6 linked regions of the Homo sapiens genome follow. The protein of the gene in region 1 interacts with the protein of each later gene in a pairwise test. Each region holds a gene or a part of one and is shown on either strand. Other genes may lie near its edges.

Region 1 (4,494 bases):
TTTTTCATCCTTAGCTAGTACTGTGTATGTGGAAGATGTTCAACAAATCCTAGTTGCTAAAAATCTGCCCTTACTCACAGGATTCTTATGACTAAGTGACTCCATGTATAGACAATTTCTTTGTGAACTGAAAAGTACAAAAAAAAATAGTTACTGTTTTTTCCTGTCACCTGGCCACTAAACATAACAGCATATAAATGCCAGGCACAGGCAATCACCTTCATTCAGTGATTCTCCAAGGGCCCTGCCCCCGTATCTCCAAGTTTCTTTTCCCTGCTCAGTATCCACCTCTCTCCCTCCTAATTGTTTGGTGTGCCACGCAGATTTCCTCCTCTGTATTATCAGCCTCAGCCTTCTCCATTCAACTCTCCCTTCTTCCAGATTTCAGGGTACCTGTGAGGTAGGAAATGTTGCCTTCTCCAGCCTTGCTCTTTGCTTTCTCCATGATTTCCCTACTCCCCTCTGCAATCTCTGTCTTTCAACATCCCCACCATGTTCACCAGTGGAAGAGATCAGTTGGTTAAGTTGATGTGATTACAGTAATTTTTGTCTATGCTTTGTCAGACTGGTGACAAAGCTATGTCTCTATAGCTCAGCTCTGCTTATGTTTTTACCAGGTCTAAAATACTTTGTTTCCCATTTTCCTTCAGGATAAAATTTAGACTCTTTGACACAGAAAATCCTTAATGCTCTAATACTTGTCTCTGTCTTTGCAGTGACATTCCCTCCCTCTCCCCTTCACAACCTAAATGCTACACTAAGCTAGTGGGTCATGATTGTTTGTTCCCTACCTCATTTCATAAAAAAATTTGAGCAGTACACTGTGTTTTCTCATACCCCTACTCTAAATGCTCTTCTCTCCCCTTCTTTACTTTCTAATGCCTATGCATCCTTTGAGATTCAGTTCGGGTATTACCTTTTTTAGGAAACTTTCTTTGTGGGTTATCATAGCACTTCTACCATAGCCGTATCATGCTCTATTTGTTTTCTATTGCTGTGTCACAAATTAGCACACATTGAATGGTTTAAAACAACACACATTTATTATTTTACTGTTTCTGTGGGCCTGGAGTACAGGCACAGCTTAGCTGAATCCTCTGCTTAAGGTCTCAGAAAGCTGCAATCAAGGCTTTGGCTGGGCTGCATTCTCATCCTAGTGGTTTGAATGGGGGAGGAATCTGCTTCCCAGCCCAGTGAGGTTGTCGACAGAATCCATTTTCTTCTGTCTTTAGGAATGAGGGCCCTGGCTTCTGGCTGGGTATATGTGGGAGGCCTCCCTCAGCTGCTGAGGGCTGCACACAGTTCCTTGCCATATGGGCTCTCCCAGCCTGGCCTCCTACTTTATCCAGCAAGAGTCTTTAGAGCAAGTCTGATAGCAAGATGGAGTCATATGTGATGTAACATAATCATGTGAGTGAGACCTTATCACTTGCATCCTATTTTATTGGTTAGAAGTCATGGGTCCTATCCACACTCAGAAAGGAGGAGTTTACACTCAGGTGTAAATACCAGGATGCAGGGATTCTAGGGGCCATCTTGGAGTCTGTCCGGCACACATGCTGTGTTATTACTCTCTTTACTGCCTGTCTCCTTTGAAAAAGAGTGAGATTCTTGAGGGAAGGGACTGCTCACCTCCCAGTCTTCCACAGCACAGTGGTTGGCATACAGTAGCTATCAATGAGTAAGTAAATAGTAGGATGAAGTAAAATTGTCATGTTTTTATCTGCCTTGTGATTTGGGGGAAAAAAAGGTGAAAACCCATGATAAGTGGGGAAAAGGCAAGTTGGAAGAGACAACATTTTAAGTTTAATGTCCAGAAACTGGTTAGCGCTCCAGTGCTGAGCCTTGTCCTCTTTAATCATGGAATAGACTCCTTTCTGTCTACTCTGGAAGAAACTATACCTGAGAGGTTGTGGTAAATTTGATTATTGTTCAGAAATATTAATTCCTGCTCCACCTACATGAACAAAACATGTTTCCTTGTGCCTTGACTTTGAGCTTTTCCCTGTGACCTGTTTTCATCAGTGGAATATTAGTGGGTGCAGTGTGCCCCCAGGGTTTGGAAAGGGTTTGCATGATTTGGCTTGCTCTTTTTCTCTTCTGCCATCATCACCAGAGCGTGCCTGGACTGGCCCTCTGATCACAGAGAAAGATTCAAGGCATAGATCTGAGCTTGCCCACCCACGTTTCCCAGCCATTCCCCAGCCAAAGAAGCCAACCACCTATTGACCTGCTGACATGTGACCAAAACAAATACTTATTGCTGTATGTCACTAAGATTTTGTGGTTGTTTATTATGTAGCAAGAGAGTTATTATGTAGCGAGAATGAACTTATATAGGATATCAAAGGGAAGTATGACTCAGAAAAGGAAAGAATTGTGTGTCCCTCTTTTGCAGAGAAGGATGGCATGTCATAGTTTGCCAGTGGGAGAAACTCACCAGAGATTTGGCAGGTGGGAGGGAAGTTGAGGACATTATGCTTGGGAAGTTGTTCATATCAGGCATGGCGGGTTCCTCAGATATGGCATTTTCACACATCTCTCCACAGCCTCACTTCACAGACATGGTGGCTGCACAAATATCCCCATGAACTCATTGTTTTTGTCCCACTTTGGGTGGCTAAATGTGTGCAGCCTCTTGTACTCTATGAGCTCCTGGTTTCCCACTCGTGTCAGTGCATCAGACTAAAGTGGGTCACGACTCTTTTTTCAATTCTCCAGCTGTAGCTTCCAGATCTTCACTCCCCTGGGTCCTCCCACAGCTGGATAATCCCACATTCCTGTGTTAGACTCTCACTCTTGTATTACTTGTAGTGGCTCTGTTTTCCTAACTGAACCCAGGCTGAAAACAGGACTGAATAGAAATAAACCATTTGGCAATCATCAAAGCCCATCAGTCAGCACAGATTTTAATATCTTTATTAGCTAAACTATTTTCAGATTAAAAATAAATTATCAGAGGCAGAGTTTCCATGATCCAACCCAAGAAAGGCATGGAAAATATAAGGCAGTTAGAATTTGTGCTTCCATAACTTATTTTGTTAACATAGTAACAAAATCCCCACCTTTATTACTGATTCCAACCACCAAATCCAAGGTGTCTCAGAGAGATTTATAATGCTTAAGATTTCCTGGAGGAGAGAAATTCAAAATAATATTGTTTTTTATGTTCTAAAGAAACATTTCTATATTTATTTTGCATTATAGTCTGCTGATCTAGCCAGGTTTCTTTTTATGCTTCCTGGGAGTTTTTAACAGGGCAGGAACTAAGAAGGCAAATAGTCAAGGTGGTTGATTCCCAACTTTCATTCCACGCCAGCAACTCACGTCAGCCAATCATGGTGATCCCATTTCCCTTCCCAGTAACTAGTTTAGAAATGGGGCGGGGCGCAGTGGCTCACGCCTGTAATCCCAACACTTTGGGAGGCCAAGGTGGGTGGATCACCTGAGGTCAGGAGTTTGAGACCAGCCTGGCCAACATGGTAAAACCCCATCCCTACTAAAAAAAAAATTAGCTGGGCATGGTGGTGAATGCCTATAGTCCCAGTTACTTGGGAGGCTGAGGTGAGAGAATCACTTGATCCCAGGAGGCAGAGGTTGCAGTGAGCTGAAAGCACGCCACCGCACTCCAGCCTGGACAATGGGAGTGAAACCCTGCCTCAAAAAAAAAATTAAATTAAATTAAAATAAAAGAAATGGCATGTGACAGGATCCTGCTTGAGGGGAAATATGCTGGGCACTTCAGGGGATGGTTTTGCCGTCCACTCTTAAAAATGAGATCTTGGTGAGAAGATCGCTTTTTCCCCTGGATGTTGCTGTGTCCGGTGTGGTTACTAGAATGGCCGTAGCTCTCTTGCTATGCACCTGAAGATGAAGACAACACCTCAGTTAGCAAAGCAAGCAGTAAGAAGAGCTGTGTCCTTCGTGACATTGTGGAGTCACTGAAAACATTCAGTCTTGCTCTCCACTCTGGCTTTTCTCTTATGTGAGATAAAACACTCTCCTATTGTTTAAACTGGGTTGACTTGGCTTTATATTTCTTGTAATCAAAAGCATGTGGAGTCAGAAAGGCCCAAGCATGGTTAGAAAGAACTGGAGTTAGTCCATCAATAATATGTTCATGGAAAATAAATAGATGCTTTTCTCAAGGCACAGACAGAATTTAGTTTTAAATTAATTACAACTAAATATTAGTACCGAAAGTACAAAAAATTAAAAATCACTGTGGGCCTCAGGATAACCATAGGATAATGGTGACTGTGTAAACTCACATCTCTCTGTGTATCTTTCTCTCTTTGTTTTGTTTTGAGAGGGAGTCTCACTCTGTCACCCAGGCTGGAGTGCAGTGGGTCAATCTCAGCTCACTGCAACCTCTGCCTTCCGGGTTCAAGTGAGTCTCCTGCCTCAGCCTCCAGAGCAGCTGAGATTACAGGCTCCTGCCACCACACCCGGCTAATTTTTGTATTTTAGTAGAGACAGGGTTTCACCATGTTG
Region 2 (5,371 bases), on another chromosome or scaffold:
CACCTCAGCATCCTGAGTAGCCGGGACTACAGGCGCATACCACCACAGACAGCTAATTTTTTTTATTTTTGTTAGAGATGGGGTCTTGCCGTGTTCCCAAGGCTGGTCTCAAACTCCTGGGCTCAAACAATCCACCCACCTCTGCCTCCCAGAGTGCTGGGATTATAGGCATGAGCCATCAAGCCCGGCCTGTCTTTTTTTCTAATAACAGGAAATTCCTTTTGTCCCCTAGCTTTTAATAATAAATTTTAACTATAAATTGTATTTGTCGTGTTTCAGGTACAATATTTAGATCATGGATTCACTGAAAAGATTCCGCAGTGCCATCTTTACCCTATTTTGCTGTATCCTGATATACCCCAGTTTTGTATTCCTTGTCAGCTCCATAATACCACACCTGTGAGTACATAATAATTTGTGGAATGATTAATTTTAAATATTAGTTTTTATTAATAATTTTTTAGAAATATTTAGAATGTAAAATGAAATTTCAGTTGCAACAAAAAAGTAATAAAACACCAACAAATAAGTTACTAAGACAGCTAAACAGCCTTTATGAAGACAGTTACAAAATTATACTCAAGGCTGTAAAACATCTGAATAAATGAAGAGACATGTTCATAAGTAGGAAGGTATAAGATTGCAAAAGTTTTATTTCTTTATCAAATGAAATTACAACAAACTTGAAGCTGGAGATCAGATAAAAGAGTGTCTTATTCTGTATTGCTGCATAACAAATTAAGCTGAGACTTAGTGGTCTAAAACAACAATAAACTTTCATTATCTCATGCAGTTTCTATGGTTCAGGGATTAGGAGTGGCTTAGCTGGTTTGTTTTGACAAGGGGTCTGTATTAGTCCATTTTCACACTGCTATAAAGATACTACCTAAGACTGGGTAATTTATGAAGAAAAGAGGGTTAATTGACTCACAGTTCTCCATGGTTGAAGAGGCATTAGGAAACTTACAGTTGTGGTGGACGGCGAAAGAGAAGCACATACCTTCTTCACAAGGTTGCAGGAGAAAAAGAGATTGAAGGGGAAACGGCCACTTTCAAAACCATCAGTTCTTGTGAGAACTCACAATCAGCATGGGGGAAACTGCCCCATGATCCAGTCACCTCCCACCAGGTTCCTCTCTCGACACATGGGGATTACAATTCAAGATAAGATTTGGGTGGGGACACAGCCAAACCATATCATGGTCCCTTGTGATACTGCCGTCAAGATGTCCACCATAAGTGTAGTCACCTGAAGGATCAACTGGGGACAGAGGGTCCACTTCAGATGGCTGACTCACATTGCTTTGGCAGGAAGCCTCACTTCTCACCATGTGAACCTCTCAACGCATAAAGACGCAACAACCGCTATTCCTTAATGAATACATATTGTAGGCCTTGTACAAGCACTGCATTGGCATATTGGTCTTTTTTAAAAAGTCTTAAATGTAATGTTTTGTTTTTAAATGTAGGGTGTGTGTGTGTGTGTGTTTTCTCACCTCTGGCTGAACAGGTTTATATTTTTAAAGCATAAAATGAGTACTCAAATTATTCATTTTTAAAGATTATTTTTATCATGTACCTATGATATTCTCTGAGAACTGCTTGTGTATTTTGTACTACTATCTGATATTATTTGTTTATGGCTACTTTTGTGTATCTTAATTTGCTTCCTGCTCTGATTTTATGAAAGCATAAAAGAATCTGAGTTTATTAATCTCAAATAGGTTGGGAATGTCTGGCAACCAGATGCAATAGAAGTTCTTCAACAACTGCTTTCAAAGAGACAGGTGGACATTCACATTATGGTAATTTAAAGTATATATAGTTGTTATAAATTACTTGCCATAAAATATTATAATTAACATAATTTGAGGGATATTTTTGATGATAAGCAATGGTATATACCTTCTTATGTGAATTGCTTGTTAGCATAAAAGAAACTACCAGTTTGGTTCCTGCGCCTGCTTTAAATAAGCCTGCTTTTGAACAAGTTCCTGAGAACTTTCATAACCATTAAAGTCACTAATTTGAAAGATTCTTTATTAACAGCTTGTTTTGTTACAGGGAGCAGTATTAAATTGTTGGACATGTTTATAATTATATGTAGCAGTTTCCAAGATGGTGCTGAACACTCAGCACTGTCTCGGGTCCAGGTAATTCTGGGAGTCTATCATGATCTGTGTCCTCAAAGCCCTTATCTGGTTAGTGAAACAAGGCAAAAACCTAAAACATTTGCACTACAAAGTAACATGCCAAGAGCTAAGTGACTGGTAAAAAGAGTAAATGTAATAGGAATTTAGAGATGGTGAGAATTGAGGTAGCCCTTGTAATGTTCTCCTGACTGGGGAAATGAAATGCACAAAGGTACAGAGAGACATTTTAGGGAAATGGTGTAACTGTTTGACTTGAACAGTGGAGGTTTGGTGAAGAGTAGTGGTAGTGAATAGCATTCAGGAGAGGTAGGGGCCGGTTGGTGGGGTTGGTAGGGAGAGCCTCAGTGGAGGTTTCTGAGCAGTGAGGTAATAAGATCAACCTGCAGCTGCTATGTTTGCAGGGCCTGAATGGGAAGATATATGGTAAGGAAAGTATTTCTGTATTAAAGGATGATGATAGAGTGATAAAAACCTAAAGGAGGCACACACTCACTTACATAAGAAAGTGGCTTTTGTTAGTACTAAGAGTCCCTCCCTAGTTACTTAGTCTCCATGGCAAGTCACTGAAATATGGTAGAGATTGAAATTTTTAGTTTGTCTAGACAGCTTTCACTGCTTCTTCGCTTAATTGACACAGAAGAATAGCTTGTGGTATAGCAAAGGCTGCCAGGTGTCTCAGAGACCACGAATGTGCATGCCACACAACCCAGCCGACAGCAGGCCTTGCCCAGACTCACTCCTCTCCCTTGTACGCAAAGGGAGATGCTGACAGAGGGCCTCTTAGGTGCTAGCCTCTGCTCTAGGCCTGGACACACAGCTGGGGGCTGAGCAGTAGGAAATCCCTGCCTTTCTAGAGCTTCCATTTCAGTGGTGGGAAAGAGAAAATAAACTATGAGGAGTATTAGATTAGATAAGAGAGAGGCTGATAGGAATGGCATGGCCAGGGAGGAGGTTCCACTTTAAACATGCATCTGGGAAGACGTCGCTGCAAAGGTAACATTTGAGTCAACACCTTAAAATGGTTAGAGGACAGACCACACGGGTGCAGGGAGATGAGTGCTGAGGCAGGAGCAGGGCTAGGAGGGAGGGGACTGCATTGGCAGAAGAGGGAATGGTAAGAAGAGATAGGACAAGATCTGCTGGGAGGCAGCAACAGTAATTCAGTGAGGAGCAGTAAAACAGTGAGGAGCAGTGAGTTTGGACAAAGGTGGGATCAGTGGAAATGAAGAGAATTGCTGTAGGTCAGCTTATCAGTTAGGGACACATTCAGCACCCAATAACTGTAAGTGAACTTTATTCAGAGTTTTAAAGTTACCATGATTCCTGCTTTTAGACTGTTTCGAGTCCCACCAATTTTGGATTTTTAAATGAAACTTTATTTCTTCACCTCTGAACGTAACCTTTTCTTTCTCTTTGTACGTAGTGTAATTTATTAGTATCATCTAAAGGTGATGTATTTGGGAATTGGAATTATATATAACTAGTTATTTTGTGGTAAATAACTAGAAAACTCTATGAACTTGAAAGTGTATATTACATAAACCAAAGTAGTAGAATTACTCCCTTATAGCGCGTCAAAATACCAGGAAGAAAATTCTATGAAATGAGTCACTAGCCAAACTGTCTAGTTAATACTATGATTGTCAGAAGCTAAATTTGATATTTGCTGACTATAAAAATGTCATCAAGTGGAGTTTATTTTTATGATTATCTTTATTGAACTTTAAATAGGAGTTACCTAAAAATCCATGGGAGAAATTGTCTATTCACCTCTATTTTGATGGAATGTCACTTTCTTATTTTATGGCATACTATAAATACTGTACTTCTGAACATACTGAGGAGATGTTGAAAGAAGTAAGTGCACTATTTTTCTATAAAAATCTAAAGTGTAGAAAAGTCTAGTTAAAATGTCACATTTTGTCTTACACTGTGTCTTAAATATGATTCTACATATCTGATCTATTAAGAGAGTCTAGAGGACTTACACATTTTTGCTGAGAAAGATGAATAGGCTGTGTCATGCATTATAAATGTCCTGTAAAAGACTTTAATTACATTAAGATTCAATTAATGTTTCTGTACCTTCAAACCTAGTGCGATGCCCATGCTATTCAGTGTTGTTTGAATTAGAGATGCACATTCTAAAATCTTTATAGAATTCAGTACCAGCAGAGGGCTCTTGCTCCAGATAAAATATTTTTTCCTTTTACTTGACACAAAAGCCGTGTATTACAAAATTTCTCTCATTTGCCTTCTCACAGGAAACCCAGAGTCACATTTTGAGCTTAGCTTCCATAAGTGGCTCATTCCTTGCCTGGTGCTTCTGTGGTTTAGTACTTTAAAAAATATAGCCTGTTACAAGATATGGTTTCACATTTCAAGCTGCTATAAATCTTTTATAGGAGTAGATTATGCATCATTATATTTTATATCACAAGATATTTTTATTTCTAGAGTTGCAGTCTACTTGTTAGACTCTTTAATATTCATTTTGGTGGTAGTACACAACCAAACATTGTTCTATGGATAAAGAAAACTACTTTCTTCTCTCAAATAGAAATCGTGCTATAACTTTGTTCCTGTAATCCTCACTGCCAGCTTTTTCTTTAAAGCAGAGGTGTGGTTGTTGTGGGTGAGTGGGGGTGTGTGTGTGTGTAAAAGAAGTTACGTCTGTTATTAAACACGTTTTATAAAGATTACTTAGTCTTTCTGTTCTAGTTGTACTATTCACTGTGAACATTTTAAAGGGAAAGGTAAGAACTCCCACTCTTATAATAAATGAATTAGCTTTGACATGTGTTAACATGTATTTGAGGTTTCTTATTGTTGAAAACTTATGGTGAGATTATTCAGAACATTAGATTTTCCTGTAATTGATCTGAAATAAATAAATGAATACCAACAAGGAAATGCACCCAGTTTTTGTGGGGATGAAATATGGAAAGTACCTTAAAACAATATAGCTAAAGGTGATTTTACTCAATACCATATTATTTCAGAAACCAAGATCAGATCATGATAAAAAGTATGAAGAGGAACAATGGGAAATAAGGTTTGAGGTAAGTAACAATCCAAGTATTTTGGAAACTTTGGACACTTCATTAATAAAAAGGATCTGATACAGGACAGAAAGCTCTCTTTTATAACAGTTTTATTATTTATATATCATAGAATTTACCTATTGAATATACAGTTCAGTGTTGTTTAATATCGTT
Region 3 (5,061 bases), on another chromosome or scaffold:
GAGCACTTGTTGACAAGGTTCACGAGCGTAGCTGAGTCCAGTGTCTAGGAAGGGACATACATGAAGCATTGTAAAGAAACTCGAGTGAGCCTTGGGAGAAAAATCCTGGAGCCAGAGCTTAGAGTTTCTGCTTCGGAGTGCCTGAAAGTTTCATATTTCTTCTTTTGTGCAGATTCCAAATGTTTTTGGAAGGCTTGAAAGTGAATAAAATAGCCCTTTGACAGAACTGACAAAAACGGACGGACTTAGGGGTAGGGCCCAGTAAGTCATTGTACACAAGCTTTGTGTTGTTAGCTTTGGCAAGGACAATTCTTAGAGAAAGCTCTATGTGAAATGCCAGAATAAATGGCTCACTTTTATGGGGCACTTGAACTGTCTGCCTTGTCGACTATCAAGCTGCCATTTTCCCTGCTTGAATTACAATAATCGATATGTTGATAGCACATACTGTATGTCAGGCACTGTTCTAAATATGTTAATTTTTGCTTCAAAACAACCCTGTGAGATACTACTATGTATGAGGAAACTGAGGCACAGAGAGGTAAAGTAACATACCCAAGGTCACGCAGCTGTAACTGGTAGAACCATGACTTGAATCCTATCTCGCTCCTGGGTCTGTGCCCTCAACCACGGCTCTGCTTTTGTCTGCAACCTGGCCATGGTGGTGGGTGGGTCGATGGGTGTGGTTCAAGGTCAAAATCACGTGGAAAGTTTTGCCGAAGTTCGCTCTGCCGCAGTTGCTTGCATAGCCGACTGCTAGGTAGCTTGGTTTGACTGACTTTTCACTAACTGACTTTTTATTGAGCTACCTGTTGGCCATTAAAAAACAGGAAGTATGTGAGACATGGTTTCAGTCTTCAAGGAATTCACAGCCAAAGTTGATATATGAGATAGGCTCTTATGAAAATTTACATAATCTGTGTCAGTTCCTTGTAAGGAACTCATCAGCTGTGAGGAACTCAGCGTGGATCTGTTGGTGTTTGTCTTGGGAGAGGAATACATTGCCATTTTAAGGGAGAGGATGTTAACATCAGCCAAACAAAATCAAATCCAAACTTCAGCGTGGATATTCTTCTGTCAACTCCTCCCCTCCTTGGTTCTTAACTGATATCCTTTATTTGCTGTTTTGGTAACTCTTGAACCCCATCCTCTCCACTCCCTCCCGGTCTTGGTTCCATCATTTCTTCCTTTTCTGATATCTCTTTTTAGCTTTTTTGAAAAAAAAAATTAATTATAGTACAAAACATAAAATGTACCCTTAACCATTTTTAAGTGTTCACTCATATTAGGTATATATATATTGATGTGTAACAGAGCTTTATAACTTTTTCATTTAGCAAAACTCAAGCTCTGTACCCATTAAACAACAGCTCCCCACTCCCGCTCTTCCTAACCCCTGACAACCACCATTCGACTTTTTATGTAATTTTGACAACTCTAGATACCTTATATTAGTGAAAAATCATACAGCGTATTGGTCATTTTGTGACTAGTTTATTTCACTTAGCAGTGTCGTCTTCAAGGTTCATTCTAGTTGTAGCATGTGATCCTTAAAAGGATCAGTTTAAATCTTTAAAAGGATTTCCTTCCCGTTAAGGCTTAATAGCATTCCATTGTGTGTGTGTATCGCATTTTGTTTGTCCATTCATCCATCCATGGACACTTGGGTTGTTTACACCTCTTGGCTTTTGCAAATAATTCTGCAGTGAACATGGGAGTGCACATACCTCTTTGAGATCCGGATTTCAATTCTTTTGGTTACATACTCAGGCATGGGATTGCAGGAAGACTGTCATCTCTCTCATCTTACTCAACAGGCTGCTTCTCCCCAGTGTACATACAGACTTGAGTCTTTCTTATCTCTTTTTTCCTAAAAGAACAAAAAAATTTATTTAAATGTGAGAATTATGGGAAACCTAAGCCATGGGAATTGGACACTCATGGGGGTCTTCTGTGAAATGGGACTTGCCCCCACCTTCTGCAGCCTGAAGCTTTTGCAGTTTCGCCATCAGTTCTTTGGCGGGGTTAAAGATGCCGCCGGTTGGCTGGTCACAGATGTAGCAGCGCGGGGTGGCCCGGAAGTGCTCCAGCGCGCAGCTCTCGCAGAAATAATGCCTGCACTTGGTGACGACTGGGTTTTGGAAGGCCTGGCGACATATGAAACACCTGAATGGTATTTCCTCTTCCTCGCTTCCCACTTCATGGTTTTCGTCCTCGCAGATACAGTAGCGACCCTCTTCAAGCTCCCGTTCAATCTCCCACCCGAGCTTGTAATCGGAACGGTCGTGGAGGAATTTGCAGCTGTCCCCGAAGCCACAGAAGCCAGTCTCCTTGTAGTCCTTGCAGATGTCAGGCTGGTAATCCCAGCGCACAGTGGCGCGCAGATGCCCTGGCGCACGTATGGGGCCCTTCCTCGCCATCCCCGAGGAGGAGTTGCCCATGGACGTGTCCTTGGGCTTCAGGTACCTCAGGTAGCTGTGGATTCCCCGGTAGATGTGGTCGTGCTCCCGACCCCGCAGTGCCTCCTGGACCCGCTGGCTGCACTTGAGGATGGTCGGCGTATGGTGCTCCTTCTCGGTGTCCTGCTCGAAGTCAGCGGTGGCCCCCATGTCCTCTGGCCCCACAGGCTTCGCCGAGCGGGTGGACCTGTACACCACGTCGAGGCTCTCAGGCGCCGCCTCCTCGCCCCTCCTGTCGCCGTGAGCCGCCTTCTGCCAGCTGTGGAGGCCCCGGGGCCTCGGTGCCACCCGCGGGGGCTGAGCCACTGTGTCGCCCTCGTCCCCGCTGCTGCTGCTCTCTCCGTGCTCGGGGTCGCAGGCCGGGCGCTTTCTGAGGCCTGCAGCCCCTTTCCGTCCAGGCTTTTTGAAGAGGAAGGTGCATACCTGGTCTGCTTGGTCGGCCGTCCTTCCTGGAGAAGGTGGCGCTGCCATGTTTGAGTCTCAGGCTCCCAACGGCCGTGGCGTGCGTCACCCTTGCGTCGCCCTTGCGTCGCTGCACGTGGGGCGTGGGCCCTCCCAGTTCTAAAAAGCAAAAGCAAGTGAAAGAAAAGCTTCTGCTAGGCCAGGCGCGGTGACTCACTCTTGTAATCCCGGGACACTGGGAGGCCGAGGTGGGAGAATCACCCGAGGTCAGCAGTTTAAGACCAGCCTGGCCAACATAGCGAAACTCCATCCTTACTAAAAATACAAAAATTACCTGGGTGTGGTGGCGTGCGCCTGAAGTCCCAGCTACTAGGGAGGCTGAGGCAGAAGAATCGCTTGAACCCAGGAGGCAGAGGTTGTAGTGAGCCGAGATCACGCCACTGTACTCTAGCCTGGGTGACAGAGCGAGACCCTGTCTCAAATTAAAAAAAAAAAAACCAAAAAAAAAGGCTTCTCCCGCCCTTCCCTCCCTTGACCTGCCTCCTGGCCCTCAGATGGATTCCTTGAGAGAGTCATCTTCACTTGCTCCTCAGCTCCCTCAGTGCACACTCATTTTTCAACAGATTCCTAAAAGGCCACGGGTGGAATCATTCCAGGCCATAGCGAACCGGTGGTGCTCATCCTAAAACACAGGCGCTTGAAATGCGTATTTAAAAGCAACACACGCGCAGTGCAGAAAACAAAAACAGATACAAGCAAAAAGTAAGACGCCTATAATCCCTCCCCTCAAAGATAACCACTGTCAACACTTTTGTGTCTATTCTTTTAATATAGCCTTTATTAAAAGACTGTCATATCACACTGCACCTGTGGGTGTGTAGCTGGCTTTCATTTTGAAATAAAAGTAACACATGTAAACATTTAAAAAAATATTATCAAGCACTTATTGTAATGGAAATTGGCTGTCCCCTGCCTGGCCCCTCCACACGCCAATTCCTGGTACCTAAGATAATCATTTTTAATTTTTTTTTTTTTTTTTTTTTTTTGAGAAAGAGTCTCGCTCTGTCGCCCAGGCTGGAGTGCAGTTACATGATCCCGGCTCACTGCAACCTCTGCCTCCCGGGTTCAAGCAATTCTCCTGCCTCAGCCTCCTGAGTAGCTGGGATTACAGGTGTGTGCCACCACACCCAGCTAACTTCTGTGTTTTTAGTAGCGACAGGGTTTCACCATGTTGGCCAGGCTGGTGTGGAACTCCTGACCTCAGGTGATCCACCCACCTTGGCCTCCTAAAATGTTGGTATTACAGGCGTGAGCCACTGCACCCCGCCTTCAAATATTTTTAACCCTTTTTTTTCTTGAGTTTATCTTCAAGTTGTGAAATAATTCATTTATATAATGTAAATGGATTCTAGTTCTTATTTAGCCAGTGCATGTCATAAAGTGTTACATGCAATTTCTTTTTCTAATTTAGGTTCTATCTCTTTACTTACTAGAATGGAAGATGAGATTCAGCTCACTTGTAGTGCCCCCAAAACACTGGCTGCTGTGGGATGAGGGAGAAGTTGTGTGGGTCTCTCTTCCTAGACACCAAGGCATCCTCAGCTGTTGGAAATGTGATGAATAAGCTTACAGTGTAAAGAACAATTCATCATTTGTCAGTTTTCTCTTAGGATAGTAATTCTAGATTTTTCTTCAACTGTTATCATCCCATCTTTCATGTTGGAAGCTTTTCTAAAATACTTGGTTATCTCCAGCTGTTTATACTTCAGAGTGAGGTGCCTAAAAGCTGGCTGGAATCCATCGGTATTGTTGGGCTTGTACACTGGACTGTCCTTTGTGTGATTCAGTTGGAACCCATCTTTTTTCTTGGAGACCCCCAGATGTTGGTGTCCATATTAGTCCGTTTTCACGCTGCTGATAAAGACACACCTGAGACTGGGTAATTTACAAAAGAAAAAGGCTTAATGGACTTACATTTCCATGTGGCTAGGGAGGTCTCACAATCCATGGTAGAAGGTGAAAGGCATGTCTCGCATGGCAGCAGACGAGAACAGAATGAGAACCAAGTGAAAGGGGTTTGCCCTTATAAAACCATCAGATCTCATGGGATTTATTCACTACCACAAGAACAGTATGGGGGAAACTGCCCCCATGATTCAGTTATCTCTGGTAACTGGGTCTCTCCCACAACACAAGAGAA
Region 4 (5,371 bases), on another chromosome or scaffold:
CCCATCTCTACTAAAAATACAAAAATTAGCTGGGCGTAGTGGTGCACACCTGTAGACCCAGCTACTACTCGGGAGGCTGAGGCAGGAGAATCGCTTGAACCCGGGAGGCGGAGGTGCAGTGAGCCGAGATAGCGTCACTGCACTCCAGCCTGGGTGACAGAGTGAGACTCCGTCTCATTAAAAAAAAAAAAAAAAGTTAGAAGACTGAGAAAAGAAAAATAATGAAATAATTTAGAGCAGTCTGAGCTATGTGAGGTATGCAAAATTTATCAGGACAAGTGAGGCAGGAGTATAGGTCTTCAGTTAAGACCCCATGTTTAAAAGCATTTTGTTCCTGACTGGCTGCCTCATCTATTACCTACATATTCCCGAGATTTGTAATACAAAGAACAATGTATAGCCAGTCAAAAGCTTATGCTATTTTAATGTAAATTCTTGGCAAACAACTTTAAAACTGCTTTAAAACTGCTTTTTTTCCTCTAAACAACCACTTGTAACTGCTTGCTAATGAGGGCAACTTGAAACTCTGCACTTGGGTTGCAGTTCTCAAACGTGGCCCAAACAACCTCAGCCTCAACTTCTTCCTTTTAGGTCCTCTTTTCTTCAATACAAAATGAGATAATAGGGGTTGGAAGGAAAACCTTCAAGACCTATGGAAGTCAGTTGCAGCCAGCTCATCACATAGAGGTGCAGGTGAGGTGTATTTTCATCACGGTGGAAAATTCTGGCTGCTTCATCTCCATCTCTAGAGCCAATATTGGAGCTTTTCAATAAAAGCTATGGCCTCAACCACCAGCACCAAGAAGATGATGGAGGAAGCCACCTGCTCCATCTGCCTGAGCCTGATGACGAACCCAGTAAGCATCAACTGTGGACACAGCTACTGCCACTTGTGTATAACAGACTTCTTTAAAAACCCAAGCCAAAAGCAACTGAGGCAGGAGACATTCTGCTGTCCCCAGTGTCGGGCTCCATTTCATATGGATAGCCTCCGACCCAACAAGCAGCTGGGAAGCCTCATTGAAGCCCTCAAAGAGACGGATCAAGAAATGTCATGTGAGGAACACGGAGAGCAGTTCCACCTGTTCTGCGAAGACGAGGGGCAGCTCATCTGCTGGCGCTGTGAGCGGGCACCACAGCACAAAGGGCACACCACAGCTCTTGTTGAAGACGTATGCCAGGGCTACAAGGTGAGTGTGTGGGCCCGGGAGCTTTGGTAAGTACCAAGTCTTATCCTGCTCCCCAGGAGCTGAGATGATTTAACTTGAAACCTAACATTATGACTTGGAAATACAGCTTTCATCATGTCATTCTTCTGAAAAATAGTTTATGATGATTTCTTGCTCAATTATCTAGACTGTCCATCCTGACCTTCAATGGGATGGTTGGACTCTTATCTCTATCCATTTGTGTTATGATGAATTTCTTTTTGCTTTAGAACAGGTTGTTCTCAAACCAAACACCCGCATTTTTTCTTGTTTCACACCATGAATATCATTTGAAAAACCACAATATGTAAAGCCATGCAGTAGGGCCTGAAAACAGGGAAGAAAGACCCATCACCTTTTAGGTATCTACAGTCTAGTAAAGAAAACAAACCATCAAAAATGTCTGCCTGGAGGTCCCTGGTTTTGGTGGTGGGGAGGGACATTTAGGGTAGAGAGTGGTTCATCTTAGAAGTAACTCCTGAAGGACACGTAAAAATTGAACACCTATTGGGGGATTTTCATTTGGGGAATGAAGGGTCAGTGACATTGAAAATATCACTCTGGTACCTCTACTTTTTTTTTTTTTTTTTTTTTTTTTTCCTGAGGTAGGGTCTTGCTCTGTATCCCAGGTTGGAGTACAATGGTGCAATCTCGGCTCACTGCAGCCTCAACCTTCTGGGGCTCAAGCAATCCTCCCACCTCAGCCTCCCAAGTAGCTAGGACTACAGGGATGCCCCACCATACCTGGATAATTTTTTTATTTTTTGTAGAGACATGGTCTGCCTTTCTTGCTTATACTGGCCTCAAACCCCTGGTCTCCCTCCCATCTCAGCCTCCCAAAATGCTGGGATTAGAGGCATGAACCACTGTGCCCAGCTACTGTGGCATGTCTATGATAAAAGGAATATCAAGGAGTAAAATTCAAACTATCCGTATAAGAAAGGGAGGAGAGGGCAGATTTTAAGCACGATTCAGGAAGAAGAGTCAAAGATTTGGAAATGCTTGGTTGTGGAAGGTGAAGCAGAGGGAGAGGTTTTGTGTACCATCCAGATTTCTTGCCAGAAAGCATATTAAGGAAGGTGGGACTTTGCTGTTGGCAGCATGGAGGAATGGGCATAGTCCTGATGTCCTTTTTCCTTCTCTGTCCTGCCTAAATTTGAGGAAAATGTTGTCTCCAGTGTCAGGCTCCTTATTCTGTCCTCCATGAGGCAGAGGTGGTCTTGTATGAAGGCTCTAAGTCCTTCTAAGGACATGTCAATCATGACCACCACTCAGCTCATGGCAGCTCTTCCTTAAACTCCATGGAGCAGCTAATAACTGCGATGATCATATTCCCATTTGAATTACTTTTCCACCAAGTAGTAAGAAAAGGAACCAGCTTATGTTGAAATTGAGTTTTGTCACTTACTAGATGGGCAATTTTGGGCACGTTACTTAATGTCTTCACACCTTGGTTTCTCCATCTGTAAATGGGGATAATAGCAGTGTCCTCCCTCCCTAAAACACATACACAGGAGGTGGTTATAAGCTTTGAGGACATTAAAATATAGAATGCATAGAATAGCACTTGGCATATAGTAAGGACAATGTCATCTTTTGCTAAAACAGTTACATAGAACCTTTTCCTGAGAACACTCGAGAATGAATGAGTATACTTGTTGGGTTTACAGAGGACAGGAGACAATTCTTTCAGCATTGACTACAATTAGCAATTTGGGTCAGCTTCAAATCACTTTCAATAGAAATATGAGAAACTGTTTTGAAGAATAAGCTAAAAGCTTGACATGAATACTAAATCATTTTAAATTGGATTCATGATACCATTGTTCAAAAGATACCAGAATTCCCCTCTTCCATGAACTGTTTCTAATAACCAGCTGGCATCCTGATTTTTCCTGACTCATAAGACACAAAATTTCATGTGTGCCAAACACTGGTATTGGTTTTGCTTGGTTCAGCATGTTGTTTTACAAAATCTTTTAGATGATGATTACCTTGTTCTATATCCAACTTTTTCCTGGCAGGACTCTAGTGGTGGACATAGCTCAGGCTCTGGGTCAGCAGATGAGATTGCAATTGTTGCTCCACCACCTGGCAGTCATAGCCCTTTGGGCAAGTTATTTTACCCCTTTCTTAGTCTCATTTTCTACAGCACAGAAATGAAGTTTAAAATCCTACCAACTATTCAGGGTTGCCAAGGGGATCAGTATGTTCCTGCACATATAGCCTTTAGCATGCTCTCTAGCAAAAAACAATGAGGACTCTATAAATATTCACTATTATTCAAATATATCTTAGAAGATTGGGATTCCCCCTAGGTCCCTAATGAAGAGTCAAATTGAATAGGCTTCACTTATCAAATTTTTCCTTCAGGAAAAGCTCCAGAAAGCTGTGACAAAACTGAAGCAACTTGAAGACAGATGTACGGAGCAGAAGCTGTCCACAGCAATGCGAATAACTAAATGGAAAGTAAGAATCTGACTTCATTGATCTCAAGCTATTTTCCATTCTAGAGCTTAGGCATAGGGGATGATTGAGGAAAAGCACAATGAGGATTTATTCTCACTAAACCAGATTGAAAAAATGAAACCCAAGGAAGAAACCATTATTTGTACTTATGCCCCTGGTTCCAGGTTTACATCCATGAGTATTTAGCACCAATCTTTCCATCTTTAAACTGTAGTTGGCTGGGATTCCTGATACTTCAGTCAGAAGAAGCAGAATTAGTATGACTATTTACCTAGAAAAAGCATCGAGTGGGTCTCAAACTTTAAATACGTCAAAATAAACCTGGTTTGCAGGCCTCAACTCATTACCCTGGCACTTTTACCACAGTGGAGCATCTGGCTCTCAACTTTACAGGTACAGAAACCAAGCTTTGTGAACACTTAGAAAACAGGATCACTCCAGATTGAAATTCATACTACTCTAGCTCATGAAGCTGATGAAAGAAATATACTTTATTTATTTATTTATTTTTAAATTATTACTATTTTTTGAGATGGAGTCTTGCTGGAGTGTAGTGGTGCGATCTCAGCTCACTGCAATGTCCACCTCCCGGGTTCAAGCAATTCCCCTGCCTCAGCCTCTTGAGTAGCTGGGATTACAGGCATGTGCTACCATGCCTGGCTAATTTTTTGTATTTTAGTAGAGACGGGGTTTCACCATGTTGGCCAGGATGGTCTTGATCTCCTGACCTCGTGATTCACCCACCTCAGCCTCCCAAAGTGCTGGGATTACAGGCGTGAGCCACTGCACCCGGCCTATACTTGATTTATAAGTACATCACAAGTAATGCAACAACCTACACACTTGCAACTACAAACTTTCAGATTATTTCCGTGGCTGACTAACCTCCACATTATCAGAGCCACATTCTTTTATGGAAATATTTAGGTTTGTGCAAAAGTAATTGCGGTCTTTGCCATTAAAGTAAAGGCAAAAACCACAATTACTTTTGCACCAATCTTTATATTTATATAATTCACTAGCTTGCAGTAAAATCCCACAAGCTGATTACCAATTTTCTCTCTTTCAGGAGTCCTCTCTAACCTCTACCCTGATCTTTGTTTGTGGATGTTGCTCTTGAGCTCCTGAGTACACTCTTACTTCCCCCATTTCTAGGATCTTGGGCAATGGGGAAGACCTTGATTGTAACTAACATATATGAAAACCCGTCTATACAAGAGTTAAAGCTGCACCTGTCTCCTACACAAAAATTCCACCTCATCCTAAGTCAAAGACCCTTCTTCTATATCATAGTCATCAAAACACTGTATGAATTTATTTTTATTTTTTAATTTTTATTTTTTTAAGATAAGTAGAGAGTTTATTTGGGCCAAGTTTGAAGACTGCAATCCAAGAACATAGATTCAAATTGCCCTGAATACACACTCCCACTGCATTAATTTAGACAGCACTAATGGAAATTGCAACTTTACATCTCCTCAGATGAGAGTTTCACTTGATTTCTGTCAGTCTTACACATAGGAATGCTTAAGATGACCCTAGGGTAGTAGAACAGTATTTCTCAGTTAACCATAATAAATGCCTGTCACACTCAAAGCTCCCCCTGCCAAGAATTATGGACCCTCTTACCAGCCTGGTTGTCTTAAAATCCAGTCTGGGTGATGTTCATTATAAGCTTTTACTTCAAGAAAATC
Region 5 (5,371 bases), on another chromosome or scaffold:
AAATGTAACTGTGATGTTTTCAGTATTTTAGTGTTTAGTTGGGGGGGGTCTTTCCAGAAAAACAGAGCATTTCATTATCTTGGAAATAATTTTTAATTCATATATATTAAAAAGATACATAAAATCAATAGAAGGCAGGGGACCGATAACAACTAGCATTTAAATTATGACATGTTCAGGAGTAGGAGATGGAAGGGGGAAGCAGCAAAGGGATGGGCCAAGGAATGAAGAATCTAGGATTCCCTGATCAATACTATAGGCACTTAGAACATCATTCCTTTAAGGATTGCAGGATAGAGAAAATACAGAATTCAAAAAATGCACATCCCAATGGTGCAAGCAATATAGTAACTAATAGATTGTCCTGAGAAACACTGACCAAATCTGTTGAGGATAAGACTAATGAGACACGCTTTTGTAGGTACACAAAACAGAAACAGAAAATAGGCACAATTAATTAAGTCTTGCTCTTCCATTATTATTTAATTCACTTATTCATCTAACAAATAATTACAGTAGCTACTCGGATATCAGTTTCCTCCTCATGTATTCATGTCCCATTTATTTTAATATTCTTATATGTTGACAAAATATTTGTTTATGGACTAGTGAACAGGTCGAAGTATAAGACATGATTGTAACACCAATCCAAGGATGAACACTATCATATTCAAGTGCACTGTTTGCATTGACTCTTTTTCAGTTACAAGAAAAAATAATAATTTTTATATTTTTTTAAATGACTCTTTTCTGACATTTTGGCTCTGAAAAAAATGTAAAGAAGGGGTCAATGTCAGTGTGATAATTCAATCAAAACTGTCTCTCTGATATTTGAAAGAAAATTCTAACTTTCAGCATAAGTTGTTACCTCTCTGTAGCTCCAATTTTATGACTGGATTTTAATACTTTGGGATTTCTCACTAGCTGCTTTACAACTGGGTCTTGGAGAAAGAGAGATAAGTGACTTGCTTCGGGGGATACATCGAGTTCAAACTCCCCAACCAGGAACAAATGACGAAAATGAACATGTTGAAGAAGATGGGTACATTAAACAGAAGGAAATTGATTCAGAGGATATCTGCTCTATTTGTCAAGAGCTACTTTTAGAGAAAAAGCTTCCTGTCACCTTTTGCAGGTGATGTACTTTTTCTTTAGATTCTTAAAACTAATTAAAAATTCTAAAACATATTTCTGATTTATTACCTTAGGAGACATGATAGGGAAAAAATAGACAACTTTACCTACTGCTAATTTATACTTAATTAACATTCTTTTATTTCCTAACACACACACATATATATAATATATATAATATAAATATATTATAATATATTACAATATAAATATAATATCTATAATATATAAATATATATCATAGAAATATATATATTATATATAACATATATGTTAGGAAGCAACATATATATGTGTGTGTATATATATGTTTTGAGCTAAATATATGCTCTTACTCTAAATCTTTCTGAGCTACACTACAAGGGTAAAAACTGAAACATAATTCCACAATTATTCCTCTTCCCACCTTAAGTAACAAGGGTAGAGTAATTTCTGTGTTTTTATTTTATACACATGAATAAATGTGATGGTTTATTATAGTTATAAAGACTTTTCTGAAAGTAAAGATTATTTTACTTTGAAATTACAAAAATTATTTTTAGTTTTTCAAAATTCTATCTTTAAACCTAAATAATTCAATTTTCACATATGTACAAATCTTTTTTTTTTTTTACTCATTAATGCCAACAATAATATTTCTTTCATCCCTTTCATTCTGTCTACATAACCAATTCTTGTTTTGTTAGACCTCAGATCAGCTGTCTACTTTTATTTTATTTTATTTTTAATTTTTTTATTATACTTTAAATCTTTATTGAGAGTCTAATGTTCATACTTTTCTTCACAGCACTATAAAGTTGGACTTGAAAAATTTGGACAGTCATTTTCCATTGCAATTTTTTTCTCCTGATCATTCTTTTTTCTTCTGATAATTTAACAAAACTTTTGTCCACACTGTAGTTGTTCATGTGTCTGCTTCTATTGCATATTGTAAAATTATTAACTACTTTCCAAAATGGTATTTCTCTCAGCAGATATTTCTTTGGTACTACCATGTATTGTGTGACTTCTGGAAAAGTATGGTGGCACCCCTGCTCTCAGTGAAGCATTTTATTAAAATAATAATAATTATTATTCTCCTTTGTGTTAAGCCTATATTCATTCTCACTTTACAAATGAAAATATTTTAATGATGCAAAATCTTTCACCATTTCATTGGAATGAAGGAAAATTTAAGTTTGGAATTCTGATGTATTAAAGATGATAGATTACTAGAATGAGTGAGTGTGTGTGTGTAATCAAGCTATAGCTGAAAATCAGTTCAGAATCTATTTTTTTGTGGAATAAAGATGGTAGCACAGGAAATTTTATTTATATAAATATATATATAATATATATATATATATACAATGGATATGTAAAACTGCTCTATACAAATGGTAAACTTCAATTTTATCTCTCATAGGTTTGGCTGTGGCAATAGTATTCATATAAAATGCATGAAGATCTTAGCTAATTATCAGAGTACATCAAACACTTCCATGTTGAAATGTCCTCTGTGCAGGAAAGAGTTTGCACCATTAAAACTGATTTTGGAGGAATTCAAAAACTCTAGCAAACTAGTAGCTGCAGCAGAAAAAGAGAGACTGGACAAACACCTTGGGATTCCCTGTAATAACTGCAAACAGTTTCCAATTGAGGGGAAGTGTTATAAGTAAGTGTTATCCGTAAATTATAAGCATGTGTTCTTTTTTATTTTTTTACATCAGGAAACTTTGAGCATTAGAGTACCCGTTCTGTAGCCTCCCTCTTCCTGCATATACTGTTTGACTTGTGTGACGACTGCTTATTTAGGACTCACAGACTGACTTCTATCTCAGTCCAGTATCTCAGGAACTCCAATCGTTTTATTTTCTTCTCCTGTTCAAGGGTATTGGTTTGAGCTCTGGTCCAGATTGGGTCTGAAGTAGCACCCCATCCTAGAAGCTCTGGACACAGGATAGGTGGCTTTAGCCTACATAGGTTTCCAAGCTTAGAGCCTTGCTGGATCTCTCACCCTCTGTAACTTTCTTTGAACTACCTTTGAAGTCATTGCCAAAAATTCCGAAGATTGGGCCAGAGAGACATTGACTGGATTGACTGAATATTTAATCCAGTCCCCCCTACTCCAAATGGCAATGAGTACAGGTTTTGTTTTATTTCATATCTTATACTTCAACAACTACAAAAACATAGTAATTATTAGAGCAAACAATTTTCACTGTGAGTAACCCCCAAACTTTCCCACAATTCTCACGATAAAACATAAATTAATTGCTATGCCTAGGAAATTTGTATTTTCTTAATTAAAATTTTAAGTTAACAGTACATTAAGAAGAAAACATTATTTCAATCTTTGTCACATTTTTTTGAAATGTATCAGTTTATTTTTCAGCCTTCTTGAATTACATTATGATGAGCCCAATCTAATTTATATATATATTAAAACTCTGTCATAAAACCGTAAAACATTATCACATCCAACAGCAAATTATACCTTTCTCCTTTGAATTTAGTTTTGTTTTCTGTATGTGTAACACAAAAGAAAGTTGATTATTAACAAAAGTATTTACTGGAAAATGGCTGGCCTGAGAAGGCTCCTAGGGAGGATTCTAACTTGGGGTGGAAGTACAGAATTTTTATAAATTTTTAATAAGGGATATTCAGCTAGGTTCAGGAATGTTGGTCAAAGAGGATTCCAGGAAAAGGAAGGACTTGATCTTTGGTATTAGCAGCCATCGTATGGGCATTTAAATTTTCTCAAGAGGGGTGGATAGGACCAGTCATGGAGGGGATAAGGTCACATGTAAAAGTGGGGGCTGGGACATGTGGGGGAACAAGGACATGTGAGGGCCACAGTGTAAAATTCTCAGTGCTTACAATCAATGTTCCCCAAATGGTTTACAGGCAGCTTTAGTACAAATATTGCTTAGGTATGTTGTTGATGACAGTGCACTCCTGTCACTCAGAGCTTTCTGACTGCTCTTTCTGTCCTGGGGCATTATTCTTCCTACTAAGTAAACACATGGCCCACTATCCTGCCCCCTGCCCACTAGTGACCCTACACTCCCCTTTGAGAATCTTTTCTTGTCTCATAACTTCTCCTCTACGGATCTGGCTAACAATTACTCATCTCTGTCTCCATTCTCTTTTACAAATTAAAGAATGCATTTTCAATGTGTGTGACTCCATCCATCTTCCATTCCCTTGAGTACTGACATTTCAGTCATCAGTCTGAAAAACTATTTCCATTTCCTTTAGGAACACATTGAGTAGGAGACAAGATTAACTAGAAAGTTTCTTCATTCCTTCTTCATCAGAATTTCAGAATTTAACTACTTCATCTTTTAAGAGGTTAATTCCGAAATTACTAGATATATGTTAAAATACAGAGATGCTTAACTTTTTTTAGCCCAGCATACTTTGATGTATTGAATAAATGGCACCATTTGTCCAACCCATTGGTGTTAATTATTAAAATCTTCCCTGTATGTACAAAGAGTAATAATGAATAAATTAGCAGTTGCTTCTTTTAAGATGTCTGAGGGACATATTTTCTTAAATTTCTCATGGCAATAATCTTCTAAATATTTGATAACTTGAATAATAAGTTTACTTGACTACTGCTCAGAATATTTTCAGTTTGGTAAATTATGTTGCAAGTAATTTAAAATCCTCTACTTGTGACAAAATTTTTATAAACAATATAACCTTGAGATTGGGCTTTTATGGAAAGTGGGTTTTTTTGACTTGTCAATAGTTTTTATTGAGATCTTTTATATGTTTACCTTTTTCCATTCTGTGGGGAAAAAATAATATAATTTTTATTTTCAAGAAGTATGCTGCCAACTCTAACTCTGGCATTCATGAAACAACTGGAAAGCAGCACTGGATAATCAAATGACAGAATATCTAATAGACTGTACATCCTGTAAGAATGTAGAGAAAGAGGTAAATGAAAGCTAAGGTAGTCTGAGAAGGCATCATGGAAGGGGCATGTGGTAGACAAAATAATGGACTTCCTAAAACGTCCACATCCTTACGCCCAGAACTTGTATGTCATAGAGGAATTAAGGTTGCAGATGAAATTAAGGTTTCTAATCACTGACCTTGAAATAAAGAGGTTATCCTGGATTGCTTGGATAAGTCTTGTATAATCATACAGGTTCTTAAAAGTAGAAGAGGGAGGCAAGAAAGTCAGAGGGAAATGTGACTGTGGAAGAAAGGCAGAGAGATGCTACGTTGTTTGTTTTGAAAA
Region 6 (5,371 bases), on another chromosome or scaffold:
CAGAGAGCTGGGCAGGCTGGAGGACCGGGAGGGTTGAAGAGTGACCCCCGCAGCCCCCATACCTCTAGATAAATCTGAGCCTCCAATACCACTCACACCTCAAAATGTCTCCCGAGGGGACTTTTACATCCTTTAATCTCTAGAACATGGAAGTAAGGGGTCTAGAAGACAGAAGTAAGGGGTCCCATTTCACAGAGGGGACACTGAAGCCCAGAGAAGCTCAGAGGTTTGTCTAGGCAGACGGAGGTGCTGGGGTAAGGAAAGGGGAAGTGAGGACCCCAGACAGCAGCTGAGGAGGAGTCCATGGGCACCTGGTCCCCCGGGCTTGCAGCGATGTCCTTCAAGTCTCTGCAGTGGGGGTGGCGGCAGGGACTTGGCCCCAGGCTGTGTTCCCCAGGACTGTGGGGGGAGGAGGGGGAGAAGGCAGCTATGAGGCAGAGACAGCCCTGAAAGTGGGGAAAGGTGACAGGCTCACACCCCTAGAAAGGAGAAAGGGAGAGGGTGGGGGGTCCCTAAAGCACTGTTCAACTTCCTTCTCCCCATAAAGTGACATCCTCACTTCTGCCCCCTCCTCACCCACTTGGCCCCAAATGACTGAGTCCTGAGGCTCCTGGGGCTCTTTGGGGTCTGCTGGGTAAGTGTGAGGTATCCTGAAGGGGGCCAAGGCCAATGGGGGACCTGGAAACTAGCATCAGAGAAAGTAACAAGTCTAGGCCTGCTGGGGGTGGGAGGGGAGAGATAAGGAGACCAGACTTTGGAGGAGGGAGGGGACTTGGCTGCCCTAAAGGGAGGGTCAGTTGTCAGTGTTTCGGGATCCTGGACCCCTCTAGGGGACAGAGAGAGGTGGCCAAAGCAGGCCAATGGATCCAGTTAGACAGCCCTGATCTACCCTGCCCAGGCCTGAGCCAGCTCCAGGATCCAGGTCAAAGACTTCAGCCCACCTGTAGAGCACAGAGGGCTCTCTAGGCTGGCTCAACTCCAGATGGCTCCACAGACCAACCTGGCAGGGTCAGCCCTGGCCCCTGACTCGGAAACTCCAGGACCCAGTGCCAGCTGCACCACCAACCAGCTGGGTGACCTTAGTGAAGTCATTTCCCTTCTCTGGGCTTCAGTCCCATCATCTGCAAAATAAATGACAAATAGAGTTCATCTCATGTGCCATCTCTGCTCCAGGGCAGTGACTTCCTGGAGCACTGTGTTGAGGAGGATTCTGAAGTTGCATCTTGGCTTAGCGGTAAGGCATGCCGAAATTGATTAGTAATGCCTGCTGTGGGTGCTAGGAGGACAGTAGTGGTATGCACTCATATATTTGACATTCCTGCTCTAACTTTGTCTGGCAGAAGAGGCGGCGTGGACCAGATCATACAGGGCCTGGTCATGCTTAAAGAGGGATAACATTAGGAGATATATCTAATGTAAATGATGAGTTAATGGGCGCAGCACACCAGCATGGCACATGTATACATATTTAACAAACCTGCACGTTGTGCACATGTACCCTAGAACTTAAAGTATAATTTTAAAAAAAGACTATAATGTCAGGTCGTGATTAGTGCTATGAAAAAAGAATTCAGTAAGGTAAGGACAAAGATGGGCTTTTTAAAAATAAAGTGGTTGCGGCCAGGCACAGTGGCTTATGCCTGTAAACCCAGCACTTTGGGAGGTCGAGGAGGGAGGACTACTTGAGCCCAGGAGGTCAGGTCCAGACCAGCCTGGGCAACACAGCGAGGCCCTGTCTCCTCAAAAGTTTTGTTGTTGTTGTTGTTGTTGTTGTTTAAGCTGGGTGTGGTGGTGTGTGCCAGTAGTCCCAGCTACTCAAGAGGCTGAGGTGGGAAGATCGCTTGAGCCCAGGAGTTCAAGACTGCAGTAAGCAATGGTTAAGCCACTGCACTCTAGCCAGGACAACAGAGCAAGATCTTGTCTATAAATAAATAACTAAATAAAGTGGTCGGGAAGGTGTCTCAGATAAGCTGACATTTGAGCAGAGACCTGTGCTAAGTGAGGGAGTGTGCCATGAGGATATCTGGGAAGAGCACCTTGGGAAAGGGTCAGCAAGTGCAAAGGCCCTGGGGTGGGAGTGTGCCTGGCATGCTTGAGAAAGAGCAGAGAGACCAGGGTGGCTGGAGTGGAGTGGGAGAGGGGTGAACACATAGGAAATGAGGTTCAGAGGGTAGATGGGGGCCAGATCAGGAGGCCAGGTGTTAACTGTGAGCAAAGTGGGAGCTGCAGGAGGAGTGAGAGCAGAGGACAGATGGGATCTGATTTGGGACTGGGAAAGGCAGAGAGGCTTGCATGGCAGTGGGGCCCATGCCTGCCTTCTGGTCAGAGTAGATTTCGGGGAGGGCCTGAGGGACTCCTCAGGTCCTGTGCCAGCCTGGGCCCCCAAGAAGGCAGAGCTAGGGGTGAAGGCTGGCTCCCCTTCCGGGAGGCCCGCAGGCAGCGGTCGCTTGTCCAGGCAGGAGGATGTTCTCACTGACTCGGAGGAAACAGCGTGTCCCACATCAAAAGGGGGCCGGGTGGCTCCCACGCTCAGGGTTCGTGGGAACTCTGCTACCCTGGGTTCTCGCAGGAGGCCTGCAGTTAGAGAGAAGCTGGAGACTACCTCGGGACTGTCCCCCAGGCTCACTGATGGGTAAATAAATAACAGTCCCACAGTGACACCCCACTCACAGTGCTCTTCCCAGGAGCAAGACTGACTTTTGTAATCTAGGGCTATGTGGTATTTAAGGGGCTCCAGAAATTTTAGGGCAGCTGAGATCTAAATCCTTCCCTTCCTGGAGTACCCTCTGTCTAACTCCTAGACCAAACACTCAGCAAGAGCAGGGTTACCCACTGGGCCAGACTGGGCATTATATAGACCTGGGGTAGCAAACTGGCTATACTGATTGATAGAGGCTGCTTGGAGAGCTGTACTGAGGACTCTGCTAAGCTTGAGAGAGTGCTGTGATGGATTAGTGATGTCTGCCACAGGCAGGAGACCAACCAGTGGTGGTATGCATGCTCAATATTTTTCTTTCCACCCAATTTATAGGTAGTCCTGGAGAAAAAAAGAGATACTTTCTTCTTGTGAGGCAGAAAGGAAGAAAGAGGGGTGAGGCAGACCTAGACTTAACCAGGTTGTCTGCACTAGAGGTGCTTGAAGAATGGGCAGGAAAGAGGAAAAGCTTGAGGGAAATGCCTCTATGCATTCCTATAAAAGTATAGAGAGGGAGGAAGTTAGAGTGGTGACAGCTGCCCCCCTGAGGAAGGCCCTGGAGGATTATGACAGACCCTGAGAAGGGTCAAATGAATACTCAGTGCCCCTCTTCCTGGGGCCCCCCCGCAGGGTGCCCGACAAGAAAATCAAGACACCTCCACTCTCATCCCTGCGCCAAATGATGAGCTTTACATGTTTTAGCACATTTAACTTTCACAGGACTCTATCCCCATTACAGGTGGGGAAACTGAGGCACAGTGCTTTCTTCCCACCTCCACTGACCAGGTCCTGGGGGACCCAGGGTACCCGCCATCCCATCCTGCCTCCCTCGGGAGCTGTGTTCATTGACTTCCATCACACCGGCGCCTCCTCAAGGGGCTCAATCCAGATGTCTGCTCCAGACCTCTCCACAGCCCTCAGAGGGGTCTGGGATGGGAGTCCTGGCCACGTGATACTATCCTGTATAGCCGAGCAGCCACCAAGTGGGTGTGTGTGCGCTGCACCTGTGTGCATGTGTGATTGTGCCTCTGCATGTGTGCAGGTGTGGGCCTCCCAGGCTGAGTGTCTGTGTGTCAGTGTCAGGAGGTGTGGGTCAGAGCATGTGCGCATGTGTCCTCGTGTGCAGTGAGTCAGCGTGTCCTCCTGCGCCCCCATGCATGATGTGAATCAGTACGCACGAGTACTTCCCCACAGGCGGTGCGGAATCGTGTGTCCGCGTGTGGACGGCAGGCCGTTCTGCAGGCTGCAGCGCGCCGGGGGCTTGTAGGGCTGAGCGCATGCTCCTCTGGGTTTGCTGCCCACCTTACCCAGCTCTGTGCAGCTGGGGAGAGGGGCGGCAGTAGCAGGTGCGGTACTGGTCTACATGAGCCACCGACTCTTGTCCAATGGAGTATCCTCCCAGGGGAGAGCTGTGTGTGCTTCTGTGTGTATGTGTGTGTCCCCGTGTGTGCACAAGTCTCTGTATGTAGGTGTGGGGAGGCATTCCCTGGAATATGTGAGTGTGTGTGTATCTTAATCCATGTATGTTTGTGGGGGGCGTGCCCTGAAGTGTGCCTGTGTGTATCCATGTATATGTTCATGGTGTGCATTCCCTAGTGTGTGCGGTATGTTCCCCAAGTAGACGGATGGGGAGGGAGGCTCCCTGGTATCTGTGTGTCTGTGTGTGCATGTATCTGTGATGTACTCCCTGGGTTGTGTGTGTTTGTGTGTCTGTGTACTTAAACATGTGTGTGTAATGTGTCCCGGGGAGTATGATAAGTCTGTGTGGTCTTCTCCATGCATGTGTGTATATTTGGATCTGTGGATCTGTGTGGATGGTGTGTGCCCTGGGTGTGTATGTCTGTGTGTCTGCACCCACTGCAGCAGTACCCAAGCCTGCCAAGGGCACCATTTGCTTGAAGATGCTTTCTGGTGCCAACTGTGCCTGCCAAGGACAGGTGACCAGACAGCATTAGACAGGCTGTGACCTGAACAGGCACGGCCAGAGCCAAGGGGGCTGCTGCAGCTCCTTCTCCAGCTGTCACTGCTCCCAGCCCTTCCTGCCCCCTCTCCTGGCACATCCCCCAAGGCCTTCAGGCTGACCCCTGGATTTCAGAACACCCCTCTTCATCAGAACGTATCCAGCCTGGGTTCCATGCCCATCAACAGCAAGACACCAGTTCCCCTGCATAAACAGGTGCTGAAGTCAGGAGGACTCAGGCAGACACACTGTACACATCACCGCAAGCTCTCCTTCAGTCCTCCCAACGACTATAAGTGAGGTGTTAATATGCCTGTTTTACAGATAAGGTAACTGAGGATCAAGAAGTTAAGTGACTTGTTCAAGGTTGTCACTGCAGCAGTTTTGTGGTTTCCTCTCTAAGATGGAGAGAAGTTACACCAGGACTTAGTGCCTGGGAAGCAAAGAGGTGAAATTACTCGGCCAGGATTGCACAGCTGACAGTGATGATACCGATGGCTGTGCTTTTAGTAGCTGTTAGGTACCAGGAACTGTGCTTGGCCCTTGACACATATAATTTCACGGAATCCTCACAGCAGATTAAAAAAAAAAAAAGGTACCATATTGTCCCCATTTTACAGACCACCCCTTACAAGAGATGAGATGATGTGCTGTGTGTCGCCCAGCTCATTAGTGGTTGAACTGAGATATGAAAGCAGCTCTGGCTGACTCCAAAA

The links.
Region 2: the proteins of UBE2U (region 1) and RNF17 interact in a two-hybrid assay, tested with the Homo sapiens proteins (one large-scale study listed by BioGRID and IntAct).
Region 3: the proteins of UBE2U (region 1) and RNF113B interact in a two-hybrid assay, tested with the Homo sapiens proteins (one large-scale study listed by BioGRID).
Region 4: the proteins of UBE2U (region 1) and TRIM38 interact in a two-hybrid assay, tested with the Homo sapiens proteins (one large-scale study listed by BioGRID and IntAct).
Region 5: the proteins of UBE2U (region 1) and ZSWIM2 interact in a two-hybrid assay, tested with the Homo sapiens proteins (one large-scale study listed by BioGRID and IntAct).
Region 6: the proteins of UBE2U (region 1) and DTX1 interact in a two-hybrid assay, tested with the Homo sapiens proteins (one large-scale study listed by BioGRID and IntAct).

What each region holds. Positions count from the first base shown.
Region 1 is NC_000001.11:64,261,290-64,265,783, forward strand, and holds part of UBE2U (ubiquitin-conjugating enzyme E2 U), read left to right. Parts: intron 1-4,494. UniProt on the Homo sapiens protein: Catalyzes the covalent attachment of ubiquitin to other proteins.
Region 2 is NC_000013.11:24,860,989-24,866,359, forward strand, and holds part of RNF17 (RING finger protein 17), read left to right. Parts: intron 1-279; coding exon 280-399; intron 400-1,724; coding exon 1,725-1,805; intron 1,806-3,884; coding exon 3,885-4,010; intron 4,011-5,155; coding exon 5,156-5,215; intron 5,216-5,371. UniProt on the Homo sapiens protein: Seems to be involved in regulation of transcriptional activity of MYC. In vitro, inhibits DNA-binding activity of Mad-MAX heterodimers. Can recruit Mad transcriptional repressors (MXD1, MXD3, MXD4 and MXI1) to the cytoplasm. May be involved in spermiogenesis.
Region 3 is NC_000013.11:98,174,307-98,179,367, forward strand, and holds RNF113B (RING finger protein 113B), read right to left. Parts: upstream 2,964-5,061; 5' UTR 2,931-2,963; coding exon 1,976-2,930; intron 1,871-1,975; coding exon 1,857-1,870; 3' UTR 1,479-1,856; downstream 1-1,478.
Region 4 is NC_000006.12:25,965,744-25,971,114, forward strand, and holds part of TRIM38 (E3 ubiquitin-protein ligase TRIM38), read left to right. Parts: intron 1-591; 5' UTR 592-779; coding exon 780-1,190; intron 1,191-3,581; coding exon 3,582-3,677; intron 3,678-5,371. UniProt on the Homo sapiens protein: E3 ubiquitin-protein and E3 SUMO-protein ligase that acts as a regulator of innate immunity. Acts as a negative regulator of type I interferon IFN-beta production by catalyzing 'Lys-48'-linked polyubiquitination of AZI2/NAP1, leading to its degradation.
Region 5 is NC_000002.12:186,834,723-186,840,093, reverse strand, and holds part of ZSWIM2 (E3 ubiquitin-protein ligase ZSWIM2), read left to right. Parts: intron 1-924; coding exon 925-1,135; intron 1,136-2,539; coding exon 2,540-2,788; intron 2,789-4,948; exon of another isoform or gene 4,949-5,064; intron 5,065-5,371. UniProt on the Homo sapiens protein: E3 ubiquitin-protein ligase involved in the regulation of Fas-, DR3- and DR4-mediated apoptosis. Functions in conjunction with the UBE2D1, UBE2D3 and UBE2E1 E2 ubiquitin-conjugating enzymes.
Region 6 is NC_000012.12:113,087,091-113,092,461, forward strand, and holds part of DTX1 (E3 ubiquitin-protein ligase DTX1), read left to right. Parts: intron 1-5,371. UniProt on the Homo sapiens protein: Functions as a ubiquitin ligase protein in vivo, mediating ubiquitination and promoting degradation of MEKK1, suggesting that it may regulate the Notch pathway via some ubiquitin ligase activity.